Regions from separate parts of the Homo sapiens genome. Here region 2 is linked to region 1. The links come from fine-mapping of genetic effects on gene expression. Tissue or cell type: thyroid. Region 1 holds a variant in brackets; the other region holds the start of a gene. All regions are shown on one strand. Distances are from middle to middle.

Region 1 (15,673 bases):
AAGTGATAAATGATAATTATAAGTGATAAGTGCTATAGTTTTTCACTGGTTTTATGCTTGTGACATAAAATAATGAAGTATTTATACGTGATGCACATGATACTTCCTGCAAGTACTTGGAAAAAGCAGTCACTATTAGCAAATGCTGATGTAATGTGTACTACTGAACAATGATTAGACTACACATTTTATGTATATTAGTTCACTCAATTCTCACATCATCTCAAGAGGCAGACAGACACTATTAACTCTCTCAAGTTCTAGTTCTGAATCTGAACCAAAATTCTATAGGAAGAGGAACAATAGAAGAGATTCTGAAGAATGAGAAGTGAGGCAAGCAAACAGGAAAAAGGAAAGAGAAGAGAAAAAAGTGTGTCTGTAGCACAGGCTAGGGTGTGAGAAGAGGGCAGTGGTATTAGCAGACTGCTGGGTTCAGTGAAATGTAAGGATTGCAGGAACAGGAAGGGCAGACCATGGAGGGACTGAGCCAGTGAGAGAGGGCAGCTCAGGCAGTGATGTAGCAGCAACTCAGAGAGGAATACATTCTGTGTAGAGGAACTTTAAATGTCTAGATCTAGTTTCTTGAAATGTTACTTTAGCCCATGTGGTCTGCCCATCAGGAAGACAGAACAATTGAGGATGGTCGCTGCCCTCTGGGGATAGACATGAGCACTATCAGGAGGCTTTGAGTGTGGGGAGGACAAGGATGAAGACAGGCAGAGAGGACCCTAGGCAGGCTGACTGACAGTATCATGGACTTGGATGTTCCTGTTCACTTCTCTTTCTCCATTACTCCAATTCCCCACTTTACCCCACCTGCAGGTTCCTGTCCTGTGTAGAACACCATTGACATAAATGACTCCATCTTAGAAAAAATACTCCATCTGGCAGCTTTGCATTTCTCTTTGAAGAAAATCCCAGAGACAGCCCACAACCCTTCTGCCATTGCAGCTGCAGTGGTACTGCCCTAACTGCCCTCAGGCAGAGAAAGGAACAAATGGCCTAAGCACTACACTGGCATCTCCAGCACACTGTAGCCACCATATGGAGAGGAGCCCAATTTCTCTTCCCTGCGAGTTCCCACCCCCAACTCTTCAACAGTCAAGGCCCTGGCTCAGGACCACAGAGCAGCTTCCCCACCCATTGTTGAGCATACCCACTAGTAGTGGCTCTGTGTTTCCCTGGGGAAGTACTCCCAGTGGCAACTGACAGCCCCCGTGCCAGTGCCACAGCAATGGCTCAGCCCTTGCTTTCCTCAGTCTGGGGAAGAAACAAAGAGCCTGAGGGTTTCACCTGAGCTTCCAGTACACTGCTGATGATCAGTAAGAAATTATCTGCAGGTACAAAACTTAATGGTAATAGTAAGCTCACAGAAAAACACAGAATAGTGTAACACTGTAATTTTGGTGTGTAAATTATTCATAAGTAGAAAGACCAAATGATTAACCAATCAAAATAAAAACTTTGGCAATTTTTCAAGACATAGACTGCATGTGTAAGACATAAAGAAAAATAACAAAAGTTAAAAAGTGTAGTATGAAGTTAAAATGTAGAGTTTTTATTAGTTTCCTTTTTGCTTGTTAGGTTGTTTCTGCAATCACTGCTATCAGTTTAAAAACAATGGGTCATAAGATAGTATTTGCAAGCCTCATGGTAACCTCAAATTGAGAAAAACATATGATGGATATATACACAAAAAAGCAAGAAATTAAAGCGTACCACCAGAGAAAATCACCTTCACTAAAAGGAAGACAGGAAGGAAGGAAAAGAAGGAAGAGAAGAACACAAAACAACCAGACAACAAATAGCAAAATGGCAAGAGTAAGTCTTTACTTGTCAATAACGTTGAATGTAGATTGACTAAACTCTCCAGTGAAAAGACAAAGAGTGGCTTAATGGATAAAAAAAAGGAAGACCCAGTGATCTGTTGCATACAAGAAACACACTTCACCTATAAACTGAAAATGAAGGGATGGAAAAAAGTTATTCCAATGGAAACCAAGGAAGAGCAGGAGTAACTTAGGGTAATCAGACAAATAGATTTCAAGAAAAAAAAACTATGGGAAGAGACAAACAAGGACATTACATAATAATAAAGGGGCCACTTCAGCAAGAGGATATGACAATTGTAAAAATATACCTATCTATATCTATATATATAGATACATATGTCTATATATATAGATATATATGTCTATTATATAGATATATATGTCTATATAGAGATATATGTCTATATATAGATATATGTGTCTATTATATAGATATATATGTCTATTATATAGATATATATGTCTAAATATAGATATATAGATAATATAAATATAGCTATATCTCCAGCTTTGGAGCACACAGATGTATAAAGCAAATATTATTAGAGCTAAAGAGAGAGACAGATCCCAATATAATAATAGCTAGAGGCTTTGATACCCTACTTTTAGTATTAGGCAGATCTTCCAGACATAAAATCAACAAAGAAATATTAGACTTAATCTGTACCATAAAACAAATGAACTCACTAGATATTTGCAGAACATTTTATTCAATGGCTACAGAATACACATTCTTCTCCTCAGTATAGACAGACCATATGTTCACAATACAAGTCTTAAAATATTCAAATAAATGAAGTAATATCAAGCATCTTCTCTGAACACAATGAAATAAAACTTGAAATCAAAAACATAAGGAATTTTGGAAACTATACAAACATATGGAAATTAAACTACATGCTCCTGAACAACCAGTGAGTCAATGAAGAAATGAAGAAGGAAATTGAAAAATTTCTTGAAACAAGTGATAATCAAAACACAACATACCAAAACTTACAGGATACAGAAAACGTGGTACTAAAAGAGAAATTTATAGATATAACTACCTGCATCAAAAAAGAAGAAATAAATAACCTGACCAAAAAAATATAACTAGATTGTTTGTAACACAAAAGATAAATGCTTAAGGGAATGGATAGCCTATTTACCATGATGTGATTATTATATATTGCATGCCAATATCAAAGTATCTCACGTACCTCATGAGTATATGCACCTACTATGTAGCCACAAAAATTAAAAACTAAAAACAAAATTTAAAAACCCCCAAAAACAAAAGGCCATTCCACCAATCAGTCAAGTCAGGTGCATCAAGATTATGAGTAGCATGGTAAGGCCAGTGAATTCCATGAGCAAAAGTCCATTGTCACACTTGTTTGAGTTTGAAGTAAGTTCCTTAGTCAGAAGGAATGCTGTGTGGAATACTACGACAGTGGATAAGGCATTCTGTAAGTCCAAGGATGACATTTTTGGAAGAAACTTTGCATACAGGGAACATAAATCTATGTCCAGGGTAAGTGTCTGTTTCAGTAAGAACAAAACTCTGTCCCTTCCATGATGGAATCAGTCCAATGTAATCAACCTACCCTCAGGTGTCTAACTGATCACCTCAGAGAATGGTGTCATATTGTGGGCTCAGTGTTGTTCTCTGCTACAGCCAGATTGGGCATTCAGAGGTGGCTATACAAATAAATTATATATCAGTTTTATTTTGTGTTGTTTTAATGATTTTCCATTTGTTTATTCTAACAGATAACAGTTTCTTGAACAAAGGGAGGGAGAAAGAAATTAGGATTTTTTTTTATTGTATTCACACTACCTGTGAAGCAGTATGATCTTTTCAGGAACGGAGCTTAGACCAATTTTAGATGTAGTTTTGCAAGCTATATGGAATTCTATTGCATAGAAAGCCCCAATTTCTTGCTGGCTACTGACAATAGGCTGACTAAATTCCTTCCCGAGTGAGCTTCTTGCAAGTGGAAGAATTCTTCATAAAATCCATCAAGGCTGGGCACGGTTGCTCACGCCTGTAATCCTAGCACTTTGGGAAGCCGAGGCGGTTGGATCACCTGAGATCAGGAGTTCGAGACCAGCCTGGCCAACATGGCAAAACCCCATCTCTGCTAAAAACAAAAATTAGCCAGGCATGGTGCCAGGCGCCTATAATCCCAGCTACTCAGGAGGCTGAGGCAGAAGAATCACTTGAACCCAGGAGGCAGAGGGTGCAGTGAGCTGAGATCGCACCACTTCACTCTAGCCTGGGTGAAAGAGCAAAACTCCGTCTCAAAACAACAACAAAAATCCATCAAGGGAGAGTCAGCCAGCAGGACAGAAATTATAATCTAATGTAACATAATCATTCAAGTAACATACCATCACCATTGCAAATTTTCCAGGCAGAAAATCAATAAATTGATTTTCACAGCAGGCAAGTCACGTTTTCTGACCACACACACAGACAGTGAATTACAGTTCAAGGTTATGTATACTTACAGGTGAGGACCACTGGGAAAAATTTTAGCATCTGCACATCACATTAGGTCTTCTCCATTCTGCAAGAGTTTCTTACTTATTTTTCATGACCTTTGCTCTTCTGAAATGTACTGGTCAGGCATTTTGTAGAATGACCCACAATATAAATTCGTCTGATAATTTCTTATGATTAGACTAGTGATGCGTAGTAAATTAAACACATTCATCTAAGTTTAAAGTCAAGAAAAACTAAACAATATAGTCTTTCAAATTACGAAGAGATAAAAATAATAAAGAAAATTAGGTAATGCCAAAGACTGAATTCACAATAATAGTTACATTCAGTGGTTAAAGATGATGAAATTAAGGAGATACATTAAAGGGACATCAGCAATATTACTGATGTGATGATTTTTAAGCTAAACATTAAAGCAGAGAAACTTTTAAATTTGATAATATTTTTAGGTTTACAGAACAATTGCAAATATAGTAAAAGAGACTTTTCTTATGCTCAATGAAGTTTCCTTTTATTATTAAACTCTTAGATTTGTGCAGGACAGTATTCACAATTAAACTAAAAATACAGTATATAATCTTTAACTACAATTTACAATTTATTCAGATGTTCTCAATTTTCACTTAATATCCAGTTTCTGTTCCAGGATTCTATCCAGGGTACCATATCACATTTAGTATCTGTCTCCTTAGATACAGAGATGGTGACAGTTTCTCACCATTTCCTTGTTTGTGATGACATTGACATTCCTACTTTGGAATTTCTCTGATGTTTCTCTGATCATTGCCCTGAATTTGTGAATCATCTCTGATGATTGCAGAATCACAGAGGTAGTGCCCTTCTCCCACATTATATCAAAGGCAACATGCTATCTACATGCTATATCGTGGTTTATGTTAATTTAATCACCTGGATGAGTAGTTTTTTATCAAATTTCTCTAAAAACACCTTTTTTTCCCTTTCCATACTTAATGTTTAAAAAAGTGACTATATGCAACACACACTTAAGAAGTGGGGGATCATGCTCCACTCCTTATGAGCAGTGTGTCTACAAAAGTTATTTAGAACCCTCACCATAAGCATGTGTCTATTCTTCTTTGCTTATTAAATATTCAATAATTTATTCATATTAATATGAAAACCTGGATTTTTTTTAATTTTACCTATGCTAATGCATTTGTTTTATTGCTCTCATTGTTCAATGATGGCCATTGGAATGTCTTTCAGTTAGATTCTCTCATTTTGAAATACCCTCATGATTAGCGTTTAATTTACTGTTGGTTACTTGGATATTTGTGTTGTGGTTTGACATTTTCTTTAGTTCTGGCACTACTAGATGCTCCAGGCTCATTGTGTTTTATTCCCCACCCAAGCCTAGTATTCACTTTTTTTCATGAAACTCTAGTTTCTTTGAGTGGAAAATGAAATCACAAACTAAGATCTCGACACCGGGTATACTCATTGCTCCTGACATTCTTCTCTTTCTTCTTGCAGTTTTATCAATTTCTGCCTCCTATAGTTTACACTGTGTTATTAGGTGCATATGCTATAAACATTGTTATATCTTGTTGATTTAAGGCCCTGTCAGCTGACAAAGGAAAGAAATATATCTGTGTTTACTCATAAATATACACGTTTGCATAAATATTTCAGCACATCTATACATATCTATATGAAATTAAACATATGTTTATATTGCTTCCAGCACCACATGATCTAATTCATTACCTTATCAATCAATCTACTTATTCATTTATTTGTATGTAGTCTGAAACTCTAACAGTGACCAAGTTGATTCTGTTAACTTAATCATACCATCTTTTTGTTCCCAAAGAACCTTAGTTGAATTTTTGGTGAACGATATTAGAAACAAAGTTTGGGGCAGTGGGTATACTCCTTACCGCTAGGAATGGATTGATTCTATGATATGTCATCTGAGAGAACAAAGAAATGTATATGTGTATATAGTAACTCTCTCTCACATACACATATATGTGTGTGTGTGTATAATATATATGTATATATGATATTATTTCTAATACCATTCACCAAAAATACCACTAAGATTCCAAAAAGATGGTATGATTAAGTTAACAGAACCAATTTGGTCACCATTAGAGTTTTAGGCTACACACAAGTGAATGAATAGATAGGTTGATTCATAGGGTACTGAATATATACATGTATTTCTACATTTGTCCATATATATCTGGCTAGAATTAAGCATGAATTTCTACAAATGTCTTCAGCACTACTTGAATATAATCTAGTAAACATTAATCTTTCCACCAATTCCCACTACTTGCTATGTAACCTCTCACTCTAACAGTGAGACAGTTGGCCAACTTTATGTAATCAGTGAGTCCCAAAATACATGCAATGTGGTTTCAGAATTGGTAATTCACACCCTCATGGGAAAGAACATTACCAACTAGAGTACTTATGTACAAATCCTTTGACCTTTAGACAGGAAAGCTTATATTCTAGGTTTCTTGGGTTAGTCCCATTTGCCCCCATGCTCTTTATAAGGCATCTTTATAAATTTATTACACAATTATATTATTTTGTCTGCATTGTTCCCTGGGATCCTCCAAGTTATTAAATAATGCTTATTGTTTTTGTAAAGTTTCACTCTTTCTGATGTAAAGTTCTTCGGGATATGAAGAATAGTATCATTACCACACTATTATAGCATCATAGAAAATAATTTTAATGCTTAAAAATAAAATCTGTATTTCACCTCTTTGACCTTCCTCCCTCAAGACCGTACTACTATTTTTTAAATATCTCTATAACTTCATCTTTTCAATAATATCATATTAATGGAATTACACAGTATATACTCTTTTTCTAACTGGCTTCTATTTCTTAAGAATATGCTTAAGATTTCAGAAGTATATCTCTTAATGGTTTAGATTTGCATTTGACTAAGGACCAAAGGTGTTGAAAATAGTTTTATGTTCTTATTACACATTTGTATAGTTTCTTTGGGAAATGTTTATTTACACAACTTTTAATTAGGATATTTCCCTTTTTATTTTTAAACTGTAAGTGTTCTATGTCTTCAAACAATAGTCTCCTGTCGCTCATATTATTTGCACACATTTCTCCCATTCTTTGGGTTGTCTGGATTCCATACTTTGAATCAGTAAAGTTTTAATTCTGATAAAATGAAATTTACCTATTTTTTCTTCTGTCACTTTTATATTCGTATTAGGCCATTCTTGCATTGCTATAAAGAAATAACAGAGACTGGGTAATTTATGGAAATAAAAAGGGTTAAATTGGCTCACGGAACTGCAGACTGTACAGTAAAAATGGTGCTGACATCTGCTCAGCTCGTAGGGAGGCCTCAGGAAGCTTCCAGTCACAGTGGAAGGTGAAGAGGGAGCAGGCTTGTCACATGGTGAAAGTAGGAGCAAGAGAGAGAGAGCCGGGAGCCA[C/CA]ACTCTTTTAACAGCCAAATATCTCAGGAAATCACTCACTGTGGTGAGGACAGCATCAAGGGGATGGTGCTAAAGCTTTTTTTTTTTTTTTGAGATGGAGTCTTCTTCTGTTGCCCAGGCTGGAGTGCAGTGGCGTGATCTTGGCTCACTGCAGCCTCTGCAGTGCTGCTGCCTCAGCCTCCCGAGTAGGTGGGACTACAGGTGCACTCCACCACGCCTGGCTAATTTTTGTATTTTTAGTAGAGACGGGGTTTCACCACGTTGGCCAGGGTGGTCTTGATCTCCTGACCTCGTGATCCATCTGCCTCGGCCTCCCAAAGTGCTGGGATTACAGGCGTGAGGCACTGTGCCTGGCCCACTCATGTTTTATTTTTTAATTTGCTCCTTTCCCAATAGCTATAGACACTGGCTGGAGTCCATGATTCCTTCCACATCACTTTCATAATTGTGTACATGATATTTCTTTGTACTCATCACCCACAGTGTAGACATGCTTTGTCTTCTTACTCTTTAATGAGTGCTTACTAAAATTTTTTTCAGTTCTCAATGATGTAAAATAGTGCTGCCTTAAAAATGTGTACATACCTGTGCTGTAGTCAGCAGACATTTTTATATTGGCTTGTAAAAGGGGAATTGCAATATTGTATTTTTTTCAGCTAGCATAATACTTTTAAAATATTTTTACACTCCTGACTTTTTAGATTTTCATTTTGTTGACTTAGTCTATAATTTATCCTTCTCCCTATTATTTAACTGATCCACTGATGTCCATTGTTCTAGGCTGAAACTCTGACACTCCTCTGACTTGCTTTATATGTGAATAGATGGCTGAGTGTCCCAGCTAGTGAAGATAGGACTCCTCAAACTGGGTTGAACAGGGGTTGTCTCACCTTAAACCACCAACAGACACGAAGTAAGAAGAGATCAGAAAAAATCAGAACTCCAACAAACAGACTATGATTTAACTAGGGCTTACAATTTGGGGGGTCTTAATGACAGCATGATTAACTTCAGAGGAACACATTCTCCTGTGAAGGAAGCATCCCTGGGTGATTCTCTGAGATTCAGTAGAATATGATTCCTGTGCAAGTAATGCAATTTTCTCATTCTGGAAATGGGGATATCTGGAAAGATATTCGAGGTTTATGAAACATGAGCAACCAACAGAGCAGGACATTGATACTTCACAGTAATACTTTTACTGCACATTAATAGATGGGCATTTGTTTTCCCAAGTGTGTCAGCAGTCTATCTGTGGGCTTCCATACTGTACACAGAAAATTTTAAGGGCAAATATTGAAAAAAATAATTATATTAGAGCCTGGCACCATTTAATTTTATTTCACTGCATATAAAGAGCAGGCCTACACTCTGCAAAATCTATAGACTGTAACATTTATGTAGTGAGGAGCAAAGACAAGATTGTTCCCAAATTTAAAAGAAACAAGGTTTTCTAGGCAACAAATAGAAGAGATAAGCCTTACCAGTTTCCTCTTGTTGGAACTAATTGTGTTCTACTCCTATAGAAGCTCTACTTCCGTTATTTCACAATGTAGTGAGTTTATTCGCCATACTCAAGACGACATAGCAAAGACAAGTTCGTGTCACATGGGGTGGTTCAGTCTACTCACACACTTCATTCATCTAATTTCTAAGGAATGTTCACTTATCCTTGGGCTGGTTGCAAGATTGCTGTATCATATAAAGGCCTCTGTCTTTTTGAAGTCTGGTATGAAATGAAAGTGTTGAAAACCAAGTATATCCAAATGGCTTCCTTCTGTGTCTTTGCCTTTTTCTTCTAATCTATTCCCATATTTCTATGATCCATCTCTCAGTAATGATGGCAGATGGAAGATGGCAAAAATGCTTCTCCCATTTGTTCACTGGATATGGAGAACGGCTTGATTACATCAGAAATCTTCTCCAGACTCTCAGATCCAGCTTCTCCTATCATTGTGTCTTCCAAATCCATGCCACACCACAGCCTGGAAACTCCCTTGAAGTAGTAACTTGAGGCAATAGAAGAGCTCATGTCATTGTTTGACAGTTCTCAGGTGTCTCTATATTTTTTTTGTTGTTGTTTTCACATGTGGGTGAGGGATATCTAATCCCTACCAGTTCCTCCACAACATCTTGATTCATTCTGCCTGCACCTATTCAGTCATTTCTCTTCCCCCTTTCTGTATACTTCTAGTTAACCGTATTATGGTGAATAAGGAGTATTGTGGGTAAAACTCACAGAAAAAGACAGATAAGGGAACTGTCATGTGTTATACTAAAGAGAAGGTCGGAATTGACCAATGCACAATGTCTGTAGGAGTCTCATTGTGGGGACATACAGTATATGTCTCAACTGATATGCTCCTTACTACATAATGTATTTAAAGTGATGAATATCCTAATTACACTGATTTGATTATGCAAATATACCAAATATTCACATGTATCCCATAAATATGTACCTTCAATATGGAAAGGGTATGGAATCCTTTCCATAACCTTTATGTACCTCTGATATGGAAAGGATAATATCTCTGTCAGTTATACTACTATGCACACAATAGACTTATTTTACACTTGTTGAAAAAACCCTTTTAGAATTATAAAGGAACAAGTTTATTCACACACAGATGAAAACAATATTGTAATTAGATCATAAATGACTTCACAGTATCCTGAAATTCTGATTCTTATTGTTCTAGGTCAGATTTTTCACAGAGCCATAGATATCTTATCATCCTCTGTGGCTTGAAGACTAATGGCAATAAAACATTTCTCAATAAAGGAGGCTATACCATTGTCTGTGTGATTTCCACTTTCCCTGTTGACACTTATTCTGCCAGTTTTGATGTAGGTCATCTTGCCAGAAGATGAAAGCAGATTTCAGGTGAAGTTCATACATGTGTAGACATTAAAAACTGTCAAGGCTACTACCAGGCTAACAGCAATTGTAAAACTTGAAAACAAAACATGATTAAAATAGGTAAAATGCAATAAATAATAAAGATTTGAAAATATTTATTCAGAGAGACAAATTGATAGAACTGAAACTTGGAACACAAAAATACTTTATTTTGTCAAAGAGGGTAATGCTGTCTGTAGGGATAGTACAAGTGCAGATGTAGAAGTAGCCTGGCCCATGAGAGGGCTAAGAGGCTGGAGAAGAGGCTGAGGGGAAGACAGGGCTCACATCCTACCCTGACAACAGAAAGGAAGAAAAGAAACATGTTCACCTTCGAGTTAAAACCCTCTTCAGATTGAAAGAAATAGAGAGTTTATTGGGAAGTGGGCAAGTATATAGTTGAGGAGTTTGTGAGATTTATTAATTCATCAGTGTAATTCAATATAAAGGTGAATCTTCTGTGTTGCTATTTGTCCACTACAGGGGGACAACACACACAACCTTTTCATATTCTCTGATATTTCAGTCTGGTGAGGGTTCAGAAAACGTAACTGAAAGCTAAACCATAGGTGGAAGAGCTTCCCTTGGGAGCTGAGAGGACAGGCATCAGACTTGTGATGGAAGGGACAAGGAAGGCCTCCAGGAAAAGGAACAATGGAGGAGATTCTGAAGAATGAATCAAGCAAACAGGGGAGAGAAAAAGAAGAGGGAAAAGTGCATATGAAAAAAATGCTCAACATCACTAATTGTTAGAGAAATGCAAATGAGAACCACGATGAAATACTATCTCACACAAGTCAGAATGGCTATTATTCAAGTCAAAAATTGCAGATGCTGGTGAGGCTATGGAGGATAAGAAACACTTATACACTGCTGCTGGGAATATAAGTTATTTTAACCACTGTGAAAAACAGTTCGCAGATTTCACAAAGAACTTAGAACTACCATTTGACCCAACAATCCCATTACTGGCTGTATACCCACAGGAATATAAATAGTTCTACCATAAAGACACATGCATGCTTATATTCATTGCAGCACTATTTACAATAGCAGTGACATGGAATCAACCTAGGTGCCCATCTATGTTGGACCTGTTAAAGAAAATGTGGTACGTATACACCATGGAATACTATGCAGCCATAAAGTGAAGGAGATCATATCCTTTGCAGCAACATGGATGCACCTTGAGGTCATTATCCTAAGCAAACTAATGCAGAAACAGAAAACCAAATACCACATGTTGTCACTTATAATTGGGAGCTAAACATGGACTACACATTGACACAAAGAGGGAATAACTAAGACATTGGAGCTTAGTTGAGGTTGGAGGATGGGAAGAGGGTGAGAATCAAAAAAACTATCAAGTACTATGCTGACTACCTGGGTGATGAAATCATTTGCTCAACAAACCCAATGACAAGCAATTATTCATGTAACCAACCTGCATATATACCCCGAACCAAAAGACAAATATTAGAAAAAAAAACCAAAATCAATCAATTAAAATTATGAGAAAGGCTACAGAAAAACTAAAACTCACATCCTGAATTCAGAGACCAGCCATTTTATTATATGCAAGTATGAACTTTACCATATTTGATTTATTTCTTCCTGAAGAGCTATAGACATTGGCTGAAGTCCATGATTCTATATACCTTATTTTAAAAAAAATCTATATGACATTTACTTGTACAGTTAACATATAATACACATATGTATTATTTTCCTACTTTTTTATTAGTGATTAATAAAATTGTTTTTGGCTTTCACTGAAATAATAAATGCCACTCAGGAAATGTGTACTTCCATTTCCAGAGAGCCAATATTTTTGTCATGTGGTCTTGTAGAAAGGGAATTGCAATCTTATTTTTTTCTTATAAACTAGCATAATATTTTAAAATTTGTGACTTTTTATGCTTTTTTATCTTTTTATTTACCTTTACTAAGTCAATAATTTACCCACCTGCCTATTATTTTAGCCAATCTGTTGATGTTCATTGTCTTAGGCTGGACCTTTGACACTTGTCTGACACAGTCTATATGTGAATAGATGGCTGAGTGTCCTGGCTAGTGAAGATGGCATTCCTCGCCCTAAGTTGAACAGTGTTTTCCTCACCTGAAACCACGAAGACACAACAGCAAGAAGAGGGTATACATAATTCAGGACTCCACAGCAGATGAGAATTTGCCCACAGTGTGGAGGGCCCTAATGCCAACAGGACAGTGTTGAGAAGCACATATTTTCTTTTGAATGAAGCATTTCTACAGAGGGGGGTCTCTGAGACTCAAGAGCATATATATGCTATACAAATAATAAAATCTTCAATCAAATAGCCTAAAAATTCTACTCAAGTGGCTGCATTTGTTCATGATTTATGAGATGTTAGAAACCAATAGAGCAAGACAACTGATAGTTTATGGATGTTTTTACTCCAAATTAACAGAGTAGCTTTTGTTTTGCCAGCTACAGCTGTAATGAGGAGTTCTGTGATTTAACACTGTATCAAGATAATTTCAAGGCCAGATCTTGGTCAAGAACACATGTTTTGCCTATACATTGTGATTGCATTAGAACCAGGCACCATTAACCAAAATTTTACCGAATATGAAGAGCAATATACTCCATGCAAATAAAACAGCCTGTGGAATGTACATAGTGAAGGACAGAAGCAAGATGATTCTTGAATTAAAGCAAACTGGATGTTTACCAGGGAAGCAAACAGAGTAGATATACATTAACATTATCTTCTTCTTTTGATAATGATTGTGTTCTTCTCGTATAAATAAAAAGCTCTACTTGCATTATTTCATATTATATTCAGTTTATTGGCCACATATAACAAAATAACATAGAAAACCCAGGAGAGGGTCATATGAGGTGGTTCAGTCTATATATACATGTCATTTCTGACAACTCTAATGAATGACCACTCATCCTTGGGCTTGTTGCAAGACAGCCATGCTATGTAAAAGCATCTGTCTTTTTGCAGACAGGAATAAGATGAAGGATTCAAGGTCAAGTTTACTCAAATAGGTTCTCCTGGGGTCTTTGCCTTTTGTTTCTGGAGTATTTCCGAAGTTCTGTAAACTATGTGTTGGTGGAGTAATTGCAACCCCACCTGTATGAGAGCTGGCATGATTACTCTCTCTCAATTTTACCACTGAATGTGGAGAATGGCTTGATATACTCTTGGCTGTATGCTTCCAGATGACAGTATTAAGGTGAATATGAAACATTATGAATGGAACCCACAGAGAAAGATAAATCAATAAACTCACATTTGTAACCCTAAAGGTAAAGTTAGAATCAATCTATGCACAGTGCCTGTAGGAGTCTTGATGGAGGACGTCTCTACATATCATTGAATCAAAAATTTAGATGTATCTAAAGGAAAAGAAGATATCACTGTCAATTAGACTATTACACATAATAGCTTCATTTTATACTTACTGAAAAACCCTCCTAGAATTATAAAGGCATGATTTTTATTCACATAAAGATGAAAGCAACATTGAAAATATCCCTAAATGAATTCACAAATATCTTGACATTCTGATTCTAGTTGTTAATTAGATTTTGACACAGAGATATGAATATCTTAAGACATTACCTTCTGAGGCGAGAAGACTCATGGCAATAAAACATTTCTTCATTAAAAAGGCTGCGACCATGCATGTTCATTGCAGCACTATTTACAATAGCGAAGACAAGGAATCAATCTAAATGCCCATCAATAATAGACTGGATGAAGAAAATGTGGTACATATACACCATAGAATACTATACAGTCATAACAAACAATGAGATCATGTCTTTTTCGGGAACATGGATGGAGCTGGAGGCCATTATCCTTCGCAAAATAATGCAGGAACAGAAAAACAAATACCGCATGTTCTCACTTATGAGTAGGAGCTAAGTGATGAGAACACATGGACATATAGAGGAGAACAACACACACTGAGGCCTATGGGAGGGTGGAAGGTAGGAGGAGGGAGAGGATCAGAAAAAATATCTAATAGGTACTAGGCTGAATACCTGGGTGATGAAATAATCTGTACAAAAAATATTCACGACCACAAGTTTACCTATGTAACTATCCTGCACTTGTACCCCTGAACTTAAAATAAAAGTTTTTTAAAAGGCTGCATTATTGTCTGTGTGATTTCCGCCTTTCCTGTTGACACACATTCTGCATGTTTTTATACTGGTAATCTTATGTAACATAAAGTGACAACAGAAGATTTCAGGACTAGTTCATCTGTGTGCAATGTAAACTATGTTTTGGTTGCCACCAGACTAACAGTAATTGTGATTAAAAATTTAAAGATTACATACAAAGTTCGTAAAATTTGAGTATGTAACTAAAATGTATTTGGAAATGTTTATCAATTGAGCCATGTTAATATACCTGACTCTCAAAGAACAAGACCTTTCTTAGTCAAGGGGACAAAACTGTTCAAAAGAAAAAAAGAGGTTCAGATGAGGTAGAAGCAGCTGGGCCCATGAGAGGGTCTCTACAGTGGATCAAGGATGGGCAGGCTGAAGAAGAGGTGGGCGGGGGGAGGTCAGGATTCATATCCTTTCCTGAGAACAGAAGGGAGTAAAAGAAACAGGCTCATCTTCAAGTTCAAAATTTTTTCAGATAGGAAGAGACTTGGAATTTATTGGAAAGTAGACAAGAATATGGGTGAGGAGTTTGAGAGATTCATGAATGCATTTGCAAAATTTCAAATAAAGGTAAATATTCTCTGTTGATCTTTGTTCACCACACATTTTGGGCTCACAGGGAGCAACACAGACAAAGTTTCAATTTTCTTTGATATTCTGGTCTGGTGGGGATTCAGGAAACTTAACAGAAATCTAAACTACAGGTGGAAGAACTGCCCTTGGGAATGAAAAGGACAGGTTTCAGGCCTGGCATGGGATGGACAAGGGAGACCTCTAGAAGGAGAAGCATTGGAGGAAATTCTGGAGAGTGAGGAGCAGTGAGTCCAGCAGACAGGG
Region 2 (15,673 bases), 28 kb after region 1:
GACCCATAACTGAGTCTGTAGTTTGTACATTGTTGGAAGCTGAATAAATCTCTGTGGGTTACCAGAATCTTATTAATAAGTCACAGCTTTCTAGGGAGGATCTGCTCAAAAACTCAAAGTTTAGTTTTACATTTATAACTAAATTATGATACAACCTTGAGCAAGTTAAGCTCATCTGTAAATGAAGAATACTGATACTTGCTACTTCAAAGGGCTCTTGTAAAGCGTTCAATAAATTAATAGAGGTGTATACACATGCATATATTTTAATACTTACACATACTTTAAAAGAACCCTACATAATCCACTACAAAAATTTTGTGATGTGTCTCCCTAAACTAGTTCCCAACTACCCTGTTAAAATTATTTAAATGAACAAAAATCTATATATTAAGATACACATCAGAGAACTCCAAATACTGCTTCTCACAGTACCCTGTCCCAGCCATGCTGCCTTCCTCTTCACACAAATCTTCAATTCAGAAACCCTAGGGATTAATTCACTAATCAACCCACACCTTAATTCATTCAAGAAAATTATTGATACCCTACTAAATGTCAGGTACTGGTTTACAGGTATATTCAAGGAATATTAGCGAAAAAGAAAAAGTAAATATTCCTACCTTCTATTTGGGTGGGGGGGAGTAAACAAATGAATATGCAAATACATAAACATAAGTGTACACATGTAAATTAAATTTAAATAAATAGGTAAAATAAACAGTATATCAGATATGTCCTAGAAAGAAATATAATGCAGGGAAGGGAGTTGAAGAGTGTCAGTTGGTGTGGGGGTTGCAATGTGAAATTATGTGGAAGGTGAAATTTAAGAAGAAACATAATGGGATCCTAGGAAACAATGATGTGTATGTCTGGAAAATGAGTGTTAGAAAAGAAATGGTAAAGAAAACAGTCAGATGGGACAGCCATGGGCAAAAGTGTTCATATAGTATTCAGGTAACAGAAAGGATGATGTCACTGTGTAGGGGAAAGAGGGATCAGAGTGGAAAGAAGGAAATGAAGTCAGAAAGGAAATGGAGAGCTCAGATTGCTAGGGTTTTGGAAGCATTTTGAGTACTTTGGCTTTTGCTTTGAGTAAGCCATTGAAGAGGCTTGGGTGATATTATCTGACTTACGTTTCAACAGGATCTCTCTTGGAGATCATTTTGATTAGAGACTGTAGGAAATTAAGGACAAGATTGGGGAGACCAGGCTGGGCACGTTGGCTCACACCTGTAATCCCAGCACTTTGGGAGCCCAAGGTGGGTGGATCATTGAGGTCAGGAGTTGGAACCAGCCTGGCCAAGATGGTGAAGCCCCATCTCTACTAAAAATACAAAAATTAGCTGGGCATGGTGGCAGGTGCCTGTAATCCCAGCTACTCAGGAGGCTGAGGCAGGAGAATCGAATCCAGGAGGCGAAGGTTGCAGTAAGCCGAGATCGCGCCACTGCACTCTAGCCTGGATGACAGAGCAAGACTCCATCTCAAAAAAGAAAAAAAAAAAAAAAGATTGGTTGATTCAAACAAGCGATTTACTCAAAGATGTGCCTTCTACTCAGTAAAGACATAGATCAGGGGTTAGCCAAAAATGACCCACAGATCATTTTGTATGTCCTGTGAGCGAATAATGATGATTACATTTTAAAAGTGTTCCTGAAGAATAAAAGGGAGGAGGTAAAAGAGGAGGAGGAAGAGGAGCTAAAGAAACTGCATTTGGCCCACAAAGACTTAAATATTTAAAACCTAGAAAATGTTTGCCAAAACCTGAAATAAAGCATCTGACTTTTCTTGAGGAAGTAGGTCCTCAATAAAATTGGAAAGAGGAATACATGAGTAAATTAGTTGCTGAAAATATTGTGAAGTAATAGATATCGAGAAATATCTATGGCTTCATCCCCACCCTCAAAAACAATGCCATTCATTTCCATTGAGCTAATGAAAAATGCAGTTTGGTTTTCAAAACAGTTAACCAAAAAACACGGTCTTACATAAAAAAAATCATAAAATTTATATAGCAACAAAAAAGCATTTTCACAGAAATTAAAATTTTACAAAGCATTTCTATATCGATTATGTAATTTAATCTTCCAATCAACTCCATGGGATAGGTACTATTTCCCCATACAGAAATTACCATATCCTAAATCCTTAGTGATTGATTCCTCAAGAAAAATTAAAGTCTTGAATGCTACATCTGTTAATACTAAGGGTAGTTTTCTCCTATGGGAAGGTTGGCTTCTAGAATGAACAGGAACTTTCAGTTCAAGGTGACAGACCAGGAACACATATTTACTTTGTGTTCCTCCTGAAATTGTACTTAAATAAAAGTATACAAATACCAAAATGTAGTAGACCAACGAAAGCCAAGAGATTGTGGAAGTCATCAACCACAGAAAGGTGTTGATACATTTCTGAAAAGCAAAAAGTTAACTGGAGAGGAAATAGATGAAACAACCAAGGAAAGGCTACTCTAAGAAGTAGCAGCACAAAGTCTGTCTGTCCTTGCTGAGCCCTGGTTACAGTAAAGGGCGGAAGAGTGTGGACAAATGTGAATCTGAAAGAGCCAATTCTTCTAAATCAATCCTGTGTGGCTAACTGGGCGTAAATTTAAAATACAGCCCAGCAGCCATTTGCTGACTAGAGTTTATACCTGCACTGGCCAATTGGAACTAAGCCAATGTCTTTCTTTCTCTTTTTCTTTTTTTTTTTTTTTTTTTTTTTTTTTGAGACAGAGTCTCACTCTGTCACCCAGGCTGGAGTGCATTGGCATGATCTTGGCTCACTGCAACCTCTGCCGCCTCACCCAGTGAAGTAGCTGGGATTACAGGTGTGCACCACCACACCCAGCCAATTTATTTATTTATTTATTTATTTTTGTAGTTTTAGTAGAGACAGGGTTTCACTGTGTTGCCCCGGCTGGTCTCAAACTCCTGATCTCAAGTGATCCATTCACCTGGGCTTCCCAAACTGCTGGGATTACAGATGTGAGCCACCACAGTGGGCCAGAACTAAGCCAGTTTCAAACCTTCATTTGCCTAAAGAAACTTATGTGGGAACCTGGACAGCGAACTTTTGCTATAAAACCCAAGTCTTCCCTTTGTTTTCTGGAATGCACCTTTGTTTTGCAACAGAGGATGCAAACAGTTCACTGGAATAAAGTCTCTTTCCTCCACATTCCTTTTTCAGATAACTTTTCTTCACGAGAGAGGAGACTGAAATTATTTTAGGGAAAAAAGTTCATTTAATGAGGTTCATGAGTCAATAAAGTCCAAAGGATTCAGTGTGTCCTCACATTAACTCTGTATGACTTACAGTGGGTTGTTGGTGAAAGTGTTCAACTATAGGGTGCTAGGTATGGTTTATTGTCACTACCACAATTCTATACAAAGCTAGCCACCCAGAGATTCATTTGATATGACTGGAGATTGGTGCTTTAAAAAATTATTAAATTACAAGTAATCTCACCTGGCAACTATAAATTGTTGCTATTATCACAGTATTTATATAATTATTAAATTAAATTTTTGGAAAATATTTTGCCTTGACAAATTTCATCTCAACATGTTTGCGTCTGCCAAGTCAAAAGATCTCAGAATAATCAGTTGCCATCTAATGTTATTTTGCCTCACAAACACAAGGAAGATTTTATATTCAAAAAAAGCATCTATTCCCATTTGACAAGAAAAATAAAGAGGTGGATTTTTCTGGAATACCCTTGTCCAAATTTCCTTTTATTGTCCTGAAGCCCCAATATTCATTATTTGTTTAATGCATTTTTCCTGTTTGGGGGAAAATGCTGTAATTTATTGTTTTCAAATAAGCCTGACATTTGATTTTGTTTCAGAGTTCTTGTAGGAAATCTTTGTCCAAAACTTGTACCAGATTGTTCTTTTTGTTTAAACAAATAAAATCAAGAGATTATTTTTTATTAAACTCTCCTCAAATGATATCAAGAGATTACAGTTAAATGCCATAATTGTAAACAATTTCTCGGTTCCCTGAGAGGTTAGGAAGGACTTATAATATGTCTCCTCTTTTTAAACAGAATTTGGGTCTGAGCAAAACTTTGTGTCCTAGAAACATAAGCTTTGTTGGGTATGGAAGCCCACATTTACTCTGACATAGTATAAAATATATGAACAGGGGGATAAAAAGGATTTTGTAGTATGTTAACTAGGTTTGATGTTATTTTAAATCGATTTTTAAACTAAAAAATACATTAAAATATTTTTACTGATCTCTGATTCTTGGTTCTGAACCTTCCACATGTCCTATGTCTGGCACACAACATTAGCCCAAAGAGAGCAAAGCAGTCCAGTTAAATAAACCAAAGAAACAAGATTAAAACTAGATAAGGTCATGTGTAGGATTTTCCAAATCTTTCTTGTCATGCTGAAACTTCCAGCTCTTAAAACAGTAACACATATTTCCTTTGTCCTAAAAACCAATATTAAGTCTCCTTCCTTGGGCATAAGAATATGGATAGTTATACTTAGGTGACAGTAATGTGTGGTAAAGAGTGGGCCTTGCTGGCATGCGGACAATGACCAAATTGTATTGATCATATTTTAATCGAATACATTGCTCCACTACTGACTTGCAAATACATGATGAATTTGCTTTCTAACATATTCCAAGAAGGCCAGAGAACTGGCTTATCCATTTGGATTAATCCACTGGTGAATTTCTTTCGGGATAGGCCAAAATGGATCTGGACTATAATCTTTACATATTTAGATCCTTCAAACTAGACCAAAAAGGAAATCTGGGCTGCAAGGCTCAATTAGAAGAACAGTGTGGGATGCTGCTTTGCTGACTATTGGGGGTCGCTGCCCCATGTCTTCAGAGGAGACTGGAGCCCAGTGCCTGCCATGACCAACTTATGAGGTGAAGTAAGGGCTTCCCCCTAGGAACGCATGTGCTTAATACAGATGTGCTGTGTGCTAGGTACCCTAAGGACTACAGGAAATAATGAGAATACATGATGTGTCCATAACAAGGAGGCACACAGGCCACGGCACCAGCTCTGGAATCACACAGCCCAGGTTCGAAGCCTGGCTAGGCCACTGTCATATCAATGACCCAAGGAGCAAGCAGCCTAAGGCTTAAATGTTGTTGCTGTTGTTTGTTGTGGTTTTTTGTTTTTGTTTTTGTTTGAGACAAGAGTTTTGCTCTGTTCCCCCAGGCTGGAGTGCAGTGAGGTGATCTCAGCTCACTGCAACCTCCACCTCCCGCTTTCAAGCGATTCTCCTGCCTCAGCCTCCCTAGTAGCTGGGATTACAAGTGCGTGCCACCACGCTCAGTTAATTTTTGTATTTTTAGTAGAGATGGGGTTTCACCATGGTGGTCAGGCTGGTCTCGAACTCCTGACCTCAGGTGATCCACCCGCCTTGGCCTCCCAAAGTGCTGGGATTAAAGGCGTGAGCCACCGCGCCCAGCCTTAAATGTTGTTTAAAACAAATTTGTGAAAAGAAGTGAAGAGGCCCTGCCTGCCAGGAAGAGATGTGGTAGGGCGTAGCATCTAGTCAGGACAAGGCACCACGTCCCCTCCTCGGAAACCCTCACGGCCTGGCTGGTGACCCTGGCGCCACAGAGACGGCACACCTGGCTCCAGGCAGCACAGAGCACTGCCAAGGTCCTAGAGGAGGCTGGCAGGATATAGGTTGTCCTGTGCTTAACTTGAAGCAGATGTGCCCTCTGTGAACCGGGGAATGGGGACGGCCGACACAGGGCCACTGCGTGCAACAGCGCCGGGCCAGGGCTAAGGAACAGGCAGAGCCGGCGCCCAGGTGACAAGAGCTCTGGCGATGGGCCCGCAGGCCCCAGCAGTTCCCTCATAGAGGCCACGCGGTGCAACACCTGCCACCGGCAGCGGGGCTTCCGGGGGTCCTGGGGCAGCTGGGGCCGACGGGGCGTCGCCCTTTGCCCTCTGACCCCTGCCTTTTGCGCCCCCGCTGGCGCTCCCTGGTTCTGTGAGGAACCTCGCGGCGGCGTCGCAGGCGTAGAGCCAGTCAGTTTGTGCTTGGTCGCCAGAGGAGGCGGTGGCTGAGGAGAGTTGAGTCCACTGCTGACCCTGTTTTACGGTAGGAGGCACGGCTAGCTCTAAATGGGCAATTTACTTAGTAAATTTAGACCCGGGTGCCGCCGCCGGCCCCTGCCAGGGCCAGGGCGTGGCGCCCCCGCTCCCCTGTCCCGGGACGCCTCCCCGCCCGGTCGGGCTCACTCTGTACCCACCCCGCGCCCTTTCCGCGGCCTGTTCCGCCGGAACGCCCGTCGCAGGCCTTCAGCAGCCAGCATCTTCGTCGCCCCTAAGAGGCCGTGTCCTCTCCCTCGGGCTGCGGCCGCCCCTCTGGGGGTCCTGCCGGCTGTGGGTTGGGGGCTGGCCATCAGGAAGACACCCATGCTGCCTGCTCGGAACCCCCCGAGGTTTGGACACCCCAGTTCCGTAAGGATCCCTCCTCCCAGCCGCATGTTCACTCTCCTGCTGCCTTCACCACGTGAGCCGGCGGTCAAGGCCAGGAAGCCCATCCCAGCCACTCTCCTGGAGGAGACCGAGGTGTGGGCCCAAGAAGGGCCCAGAAGAGTGAAGAAGGATGAGGATCCGGTGCAGATCGAAGGGGAGGATGACGAGAAAAGGACCCCCCTTAGCAGCGGAGAAGCATCGTCCACATCCAGGTCCCAGGGCACCCAGGGAGACGTGGCCTCCTTCAGATGCAGCCCTGGGCCTCTGGAGGGAAATGTCTACCACAAGTTCTCAGAAAACAGCATGAGTGAGAAGGCCCAGGCGTCTCCAGCGAGCTCCTGCTTGGAAGGCCCTGCCATGCCCAGCACACACAGCCAGGCCGGATGTGCCCGGCATCTTGGAAAGCCTGATCCGGATGCAACAGCGCCCCCTGAGCCAGCCGTTGGCTGCTCCCTGCTGCAGCAGAAGTTGGCTGCGGAAGTGCTGAATGAAGAGCCACCGCCCAGCTCCCTAGGCTTGCCGATTCCGCTGATGTCCGGAAAGAGGATGCCTGATGAGAAGCCTTTCTGTATTCCTCCAAGGAGCGCTGCTCCTCCCAGAGCTGCCCGCAACAGGCCCTGCAAAAGGAAAATGTCGATTCCATTGCTGCTGCCGCTGCCCCCTTCACTGCCATTGCTGTGGGATCGAGGTGAGCTTCCCCCACCTGCTAAGCTCCCCTGCCTGTCTGTTGAGGGAGACCTACACACCTTGGAGAAGAGCCCTGAGTATAAAAGGAATAGCAGAATCTTGGAGGATAAAACAGAGACCATGACAAACAGCAGCATCACCCAGCCTGCCCCTTCTTTCTCCCAACCTGTGCAGACCACAGACTCCCTGCCCCTGACCACTTACACTTCCCAGGTCTCAGCTCCTTTGCCCATCCCTGACTTGGCTGACCTGGCTACTGGACCCCTCATCCTGCCTATCCCTCCACTTTCCACCACACCAAAAATGGATGAGAAAATAGCATTCACAATCCCTAACTCTCCTCTGGCTCTTCCTGCTGACCTTGTTCCCATTTTGGGTGATCAGTCTAATGAGAAAGGAGGCTCTTATAATTCAGTCGTAGGAGCAGCGCCTCTCACTTCTGACCCCCCAACACCTCCTAGCTCCACACCCTCCTTCAAGCCTCCCGTCACAAGGGAGTCCCCAATATCTATGTGTGTGGATTCCCCTCCTCCTCTTTCCTTCCTGACTCTTCTTCCAGTCCCTTCCACCGGGACCTCAGTTATCACCAGCAAGCCTATGAATTCCACGTCAGTCATTTCCACTGTCACAACAAACGCATCTGCCCACCTAACCTCACAGACTGCGGTAGACCCTGAAGTAGTTAATATGGATACTACTGCCCCATCTCAGGTTGTTATTTTCACATCTTCCCTAAGCTCCAGAGTGAGCTCTCTCCCAAATTCCCAAATACATTGCAGTGCAGAGCAGAGGCACCCGGGAAAGACATCAGTCTACACATCCCCACTTCCATTTATATTCCACAATACCACCCCAAGTTTTAACCAACTCTTTGGAAAAGAAGCCACCCCTCAGCCCAAATTTGAGGCTCCTGATGGGCAGCCGCAGAAAGCTTCTCTCCCCAGTGCCTGTGTTTTCCTGAGCCTTCCCATCATTCCTCCTCCAGACACCTCCACTTTAGTGAACAGTGCCTCTACAGCATCATCATCCAAACCTCCCATTGAAACCAATGCTATGCATACCACTCCTCCTTCCAAGGCTGTCATCTTGCAGTCTGCCTCTGTCTCCAAGAAGTACCTCCCATTTTACCTGGGGCTTCCTGGTTCTGGGAACACACAACCCAGCGGCAACACTGCCTCAGTCCAAGGCTCCACCAGTTTGCCTGCACAGTCAGTCAGGGCACCAGCTACAGCTTCCAACCATCCTTTAAATCCAGGAGCCACCCCTCAACCCAAATTTGGGGCCCCTGATGGGCCGCAGCAGAAAACCTCTCTCCCCAGTGCCCATGATTTCCTGAGCCTTCCTATCATGGTTCCTCCAGACACCTCCACTTTAGTGAGCAGTGCCTCTGCAGCATCGTTATCCAAGCCTGCCATTGACACCAGTGACATGAATACCACCCCTCCTTCCAAAACTGTCATCTTGCAGTCTACCTTTGTCTCCAGGAAGGAGGAGTACATCCGATTTTATATGGGGCTTCCTGGTTCTGGGAACACACTACACAGTGACAGCATTGCCTCAGCCCAAGTCTCCACCAGTTTTCCTGCACAGGCAGATAGGAGACCAACCACAACTTCCAGCCATCCTTTAAATACAGGATCCATCTCTCATTCCACACTTGGGGCCACTGATGGGCAGCAGAAGTCTGACAGTTCTTTTATTCTGGGGAATCCAGCAACCCCAGCACCAGTTATAGGCTTAACATCTCCTTCAGTCCAGCCACTGAGTGGCAGCATAATTCCACCAGGTTTTGCAGAGTTAACATCACCATATACTGCATTGGGCACACCTGTTAATGCTGAGCCAGTCGAGGGTCACAATGCAAGTGCTTTCCCCAATGGCACAGCAAAGACTTCTGGATTTAGAATTGCCACTGGGATGCCTGGCACTGGAGACAGTACCTTACTGGTTGGAAATACTATTCCAGGCCCACAAGTGATTATGGGACCTGGAACCCCTATGGATGGTGGGAGCATTGGGTTCAGCATGTCTGCCCCAGGCCCCAGTTCCACATCAGGAGAACTCAACATTGGACAAGGACAGAGTGGGACACCCAGCACCACTTCTGTTTTCCCATTTGGTCAGGCAGCCTGGGACCCAACTGGCCACAGCATGGCTGCTGCACCACAAGGGGCTAGCAACATTCCTGTATTTGGATATACTTCTGCTGCCGCCTACATTCCTGGTTTAGACCCACCTACCCAGAATTCATGCAGTGGTATGGGAGGGGATGGCACCAGATCCATAGTTGGAGGCCCTTGTGTTCCTGCTTTTCAACAGTGCATCCTGCAGCACACATGGACAGAGAGAAAATTCTACACTTCAAGCACCCACTACTATGGACAAGAAACATATGTTAGGAGACATGTCTGTTTCCAACTTCCGTAAGAGCACCTGTGGTTCACCTGATCACACCACATCAGTTGTGGTTGTAAATACCAGCATTATCCTTTTGTATGGTCATGCTTCTAGTTTCATCTTCATGCCAAGCACCTGCCATGTACCTCTCCAGAACTCAGGTTGTGCACCAGGAGGGGACAACAACATCCCTGTGCTCCCTTTCTCTGTCAGTACACATGGGTCCCACCTGGACAAAACACAGGTGGTGCATCTGCAGTGAATGGCAACATATCTTTAATTAGAGGCCCTTGTGTATCCACCTACCAACAAAGTACCTAGGGCCCACCTGGACAAAACACAGATGGTACCTCTTCCAGGAGTGTCAACATTCATTTGATAGAAGGCCCTCATGTGCCCATGTATCAGCAAAGCACCTGGGGCCCACCTGGACAAAGCACAAACCATGCAATGAGGGACAGCAACACAACGGCTGTGACTGGTTGTACTTTTGGTCCCCCATTTACACAAAGCACCTGAGGCCCACCTGGCTAAATGCAGGTGGTGCAATAGGAGATAGCCCCAGATATTTGTAGGGAGAAACCTCTAGTCTCCCTTTCAGTAAAAATACTATGGACCTGCCCAACCAAGGTGCTCCTTTTGACTTTAGAGGAACCAGCATTGTTTTTGTTTTGGTTTGTTTGTTTGTTTGTTTGTTTGTTTGTTTGTTTTTGAGACGGAGCCTTAGCCCAGGCTGGAGTGTAGTAGCACAATCTCGGCTCACTGCAACCTCCACCTCCTGGGTTCAAGCAATTCTCCTGTCTTAGCCTCCTGAGTAGCTGGGACTACAGGCATATGCCACCACACCTGGCTATTTTTTATAATTTTAGCAGAGACAGAGTTCCACCTTATTGGCCAGGCTGGTCTCAAACTCCTGACCTCAGGTGATCCACCCACCTCGGCCTCCCAAAGTGCTAGGATGACAGGTGTGAGCCACCATGCCCAGCCTAGAGGAGCCAGCATTGTTAGTTAAATACTTGTGTTTGGATGGTCCTGGTCAGAGCACCTGTGCCTGTGATGGAAAGCAGCCACTAGTGACACTTGTACCTGCCAAGGCCTTCATAGGAGCCACCAACTCATTTTTTACTCCTATCAATGGTCTTAAGAAATAAGCACTCTCCCTGCACATACAGTTCTCATAAATTGACATTGTTCCAGGAGGAATGGGCTCAGTTCCCTCAAGGTTAAACTTAACCTGCTCTCTTCCTACAGAAGCTGGAGGCCCAAAACCACAGACAGAGAGAGAGAGAGTGTGTGTGTTTGTGTGTGTGTGTGTGTGTTTATTGGTGAGTGTGGAGCAGATGAGCCCAGTCAGAACCGCACTGTATTTTAGTGGTCTTCTGCACTGTGGAGGGTAGAGGAAACCTGGCTTGACTGTTAACTTGGCTGACCCTACCTCTGGGCCAGTTCTCTCTAGTCATGGACAGAAAGGCAAAATTCCCGACTTTGTGGACCCTATATTCTAGTTGAAGGGGAGAAAAGAAGCAAAAACATGGAAATTATCTGGTAAATTAGCCAGTAACGAATGCTATGAAAAATAAAGAAGTACATGGAGGATTGAGATTGTAGATAGAAGCAGGTGTTTCAGTTTACACTGTGAACAAGCCTCACTGGGAAGGTAAATTTAAACGAAGCCTAGAGAGAAGCAGTTGAGCCAGATATATGAGCAAAGACCTTTCCAGATAATAGGAGTGGTCATTGCAGAGGCTCAAAGGAAGGATCCCTGGTGTCCTCATGGAGCAGTTAGTAAGGAAATGTGGCTGGAATGGAGTCAGCAAGTGGGAGGGAGGGATAGAGAAGAGGACAGAGGAGAGATGTGAGTGGAATTCCTTCCTCCACTTTTTACTAATTGTGTAATAACAGTTGACTCAAACTTCAAAAGTCTCAATGAAATCAGTACTTTTACTATGGCCTGTTTATCTCATAAGATTTTTGAAAGGATAAAATGAAATAATATGGAGAAATGACTTATAAGCTTTTGTTGTAATTTGTTATATACATAGGGATGGATAGACGGATGGATAGATTAGATGATAGATAGATAGATAGATAGATGATAACGTTATGGACTGAATGTTTGTGTACCCCCAAAAATTGATATTTTGAAGCCTAACTTCCAGTGTGATGGTATTAGGAGGTGAGGCTTTGGGGAGGTGATTAGGTTTAGATGAAGTCATGAAAATGAAACCCCCATGATGGGATTTGCGCCTTTATGAGAAGAAATACCAGTGCTTTCTCTAATTGCCATGTGAAGGTATACCAACAAGGTAACAGTCTGTAAGCCAGGAAAAGAGTCCTCACAAGAAACAGAATTTGTCTTTATCTTGGACTTCCTAACCTTTAGAATTGTAGAAAATAATTGAATGTTGTTTAAGCTACCAGTCTGTGGCATTTTTTGTAGCAATCAGAACTGACTAATAAAGATAGATAGATGATAGATAGATACATAGATAGATGATAGAGATAGATGATAGATAGATAGATAGATAGATAGATAATATACATATATATGTATGGTCAATGACTGAGTTCCTTAGGCAATGGTGCCCTGATTGCCTTTATTAGGCAATTCAAATAGAAGAATAGAAGAACCCCCTTTTTTTTTTGAGATGGAGTCTTGCTCTGTCACCCAGGCTGGAGTGCAGTGGCGTGATCTTGGCTCACTGCACGCTCCACCTCTCGGAAGAACCCCTTTTTATTAGCATAAAAGCACTTACTTTTATGAAGCAAACACATGTAAAAATATGATAACAGAGACTAAAACATTTATGAGATTAGGCCTGAAAGAAAACAATCACAGAGAAATTACTGAATTCCTCTTGGCACCCTGGGGCCTGATTCATTCGCTCTAAATTGTTTAGTACAGTTCCAGAGGATCAAAGCTCCTGTTTCCTGGCCAGATAATCACCTAACTTTTGTAATCAGAACTGCCTTTCAGAAGTAGAGTGGAAATCCAGTTTTCTTCTAATAGCCCTATACCCTTGCAGTATTACCAGGGACAAATTTTTTAAAATTCATACTTCTTGACATTTTTTAAAAGGCTTCAAGCTAAATATTATGATCCTGGTAAGACAAACTTTGAATAAATGTGTGAGAGATACAAAGATAATTTTTGTTTTCATGTTTTGATGCACTTACACAACTGAAACTATTTCTAAATATTCTTTTATTTTTTATTAAGATAAAAAGCAAACATAATATCAATTTAAATAATACTGAAAGTCAACCTTCCTACCACAGTTCCCTCCTCCAGAGATAGTGTTTAGCTACTTTGATGTCACTCCCATAGTTCTGAGTTTGCTTTTTTACTTCAACTATTATGTTATCTTACAGATGTCATTGTTTTTCCTAAAACTTGAAGTGCCTTCCTTTTTTTCTCCTTGAACTCTTTTCCCATAAAAAAAAAATGTTTTTGGTTTCTAGAATTTTCAAATAGTATTGTTTACTTGACTGAATCCCTTCCTTTTCCAGAAACCTTGAGCCTCCTCCACTGGTTTGGGAGTGGTAAGACCAAAGTAAATGTAAAAAGTAAAGTAGAGGTTCCTCTTCAAAGACTTTCCTCCCTATCTAATTAGAAATAAGTAGTAACTTCTTTTAGAAGCAAAATGTATTCACAGACCTGTACTAACATTCTTAAATATCTGCTAGTCATAATAAAGAAATCAATGTACTTTATGTTCTTAGCTCCCACAATTTAGCCTAAGTATTTGCCCTGGCATGCTTATACTGGTCCAAGCATTAGGTCATAGCCTGTTCCTCTTCCTTATTTAGAAGTGTTTTTACCTTTCTCAGCATTCCACAAGTTACTTCCTCATTCCTTTGTTCTCCTCTACCTTTGCCTCTTTTAAAAGTTCTAAATTGCTAGCCAATCGGGACAAATACAGAATGTGAGGTCCTGTTCCAGCCAATGGAAACCGGACACAGCAGTAGGGTGGACGCGTCAGGTTATAAATGACCCTGTCTCCTTTGTTCGGTGTACTCTTGTGGCAAAACTGCTGGCAAGTGTACCCTTTCTGCAGGAAGTAAAAATGGCCTTACTAAATAAATTTATGTTCAAGTGCTATTTCTTTACGACACCGAGGAACAAGCATTTCAAACATAAGGACATGGTCTCAGAAGAAAGAGGCCTAAAGGAGCCACCCAAACTGCTTTTAGTTTAGCCCAGAAATGCTCACTAATCAATAATTTTTAAAAAATGTCTAATTCTGGCTGCATCATCCTAATTTCCTGAATCTATGGTAGAGCCAGGAATCTGGATTCCAGGCAGCACTCTAGGGAGGTATGATGCAGACAGTCCATGTTTCCTATTATTCCAAACACTGCTTCACACCTTACATGAGAGCTCACCAAAGTCCTCATTCATCTCATAAGATAAAAAAATTTGTATAGGATGTGGTTCCAAAGCCCTAATTAGTAATAAGCAGAGTGTTTTCCTTACATCTGTGTCTCATGAACTAGAAAATGGCCTGCGGAAAATTTGAGAATTTCCAACTCATGGATGCATGTCTTTCTTGCTCTAAATATCTTCATGTTAGAGGTCTAGAAACTGCCCCCAACTGTGAGAACACTGTCCAGGGCCCCCTTAACCAGTCACTGCTGTGATCCCAGGGTTATGTGATGCAATGAGGGCTTCCCAAACAGCAATTCATTCTTTACCTGAGGCAGAGCTGGGAATGGCTCTCTCAGAAGTCCCAGGACAGGAATATCATCATCAGATGTGCCTTCCAGATAGGAAAATTGAGGCTCATAAAATCAAATATTTGCTAAGTTTTACAGCCATGATCTAGATCCTGGATTTATCCAATGCATGAAATGGGGCATGGGAGGGACTAGAAAAAAAGAAGCCAAACAAAATCTCTGCTAAAAAAATTATCTGTCTTAGGTAAATAGTACCTTTGCTTTAAATGCATACTAAGCTGTGAATGACTGATATCAGAGACTTTCTTGGAAGTAGGTTTCATAGGATGGAGGACAAATGAAACTTTATGGGCGAAGAAAGAAGGGTCAGTTGGGTGGTGCATTGAAGTAAGTGGTTCCAAAAGCAAACTAGGTCAACTTTTTAACTGGCTAGTGAAAATGAGATTCCTCAGGATACAAAAGCAAGGAGAAGACAGGAATAAATCAGGACTCCAACAGGCAGAACAGGATTTATTTAGGGCATGCAATGTGGAGGGCCCTAATGGGAACATGACAGTGTTGAGAGGAGCACATTCTCTTGGGAATGAAGCATTCCTGCAGGGAGAGTCTCTGAGACTTCCTAGCATATGTCTGCTATGCAGGTAATTACATTGTCAATCTAATGGTTTAAAAAATATTCTGGTGAGGGGAAGCATTAGTTCAAGACATGTGAGATGTAAGCAATCAACAGACCAAAAACATTGATACTTTATGGGTGTCGTAACTCCATATTACTAAATGGCCATGTTTTGCCATCTTAAAGCTACAGGGGTTCTGGGCTTCAGTACTATATGCAGAGAATATTAACACCAGACATTGGTTGTTTAAAAATGATTATCAGGCTGCGCACAGTGTCTCATGCCTGTAATCCCAGCACTTTGGGAGGCCGAAGCGGGCAGATCACCTGAGGTCAGGTGTTCAAAACCAGCCTGGCCAACATGGCGAAACCCTGTCCCTACTAAAAATACAAAAATTAGCTGGCCATGGTGGCATGAACCTGTAATCCCAGCTACTCCAGAGGCTGAGGCATGAAAATTGCTTGAACCTGGGAGGTGGAGGTTGCAGTGAGCCAAGATCAAGCCACTGCACTCCAGCCTGGGCAACAGAACAAGACTCCATCTCAAAAAAAAAAAAAGAAAAAAAAACTTGTCATCCTTACTTTATTATATTACATCCTGGCACCATTAACCATCATTTTACTGCATATAGAGAGCAACTCTATACTTCATGCAAACTACATAGACTAGCATTTGCTTTGTAAAGAGAAAGGCAGGACGATTCTCAAAATAAAAGGAAACTGGAGGAATTCTGGGGAAAAAATAGAGGAGATAAGTTTCACTCGCGTCCATGTGAAGAGACCACCAGACAGGCTTTGTGTGAGCAACAAGGCTGTTTATTTCACCTGTGTG

What was found. PIP is the estimated chance that this variant, and not a neighbour inherited with it, causes the effect.
Region 2: NPAP1 starts here. The variant in region 1 is fine-mapped to the expression of NPAP1 in thyroid (GTEx, PIP above 0.99).

Annotation. Positions count from the first base shown.
Region 1 is chr15:24,641,570-24,657,242 of GRCh38, forward strand. No RefSeq gene overlaps it. Among named protein-coding and RNA genes, the nearest start is that of NPAP1, 26 kb to the right of the region's middle. The variant C/CA (reference allele first, on the strand shown) is at 7,764.
Region 2 is chr15:24,669,761-24,685,433 of GRCh38, forward strand. It overlaps NPAP1 (nuclear pore associated protein 1), which reads left to right and starts at 6,015. Exons shown (of 1, transcript NM_018958.3): 1 at 6,015-13,633. The coding sequence starts at 6,108. The coding sequence ends at 9,578.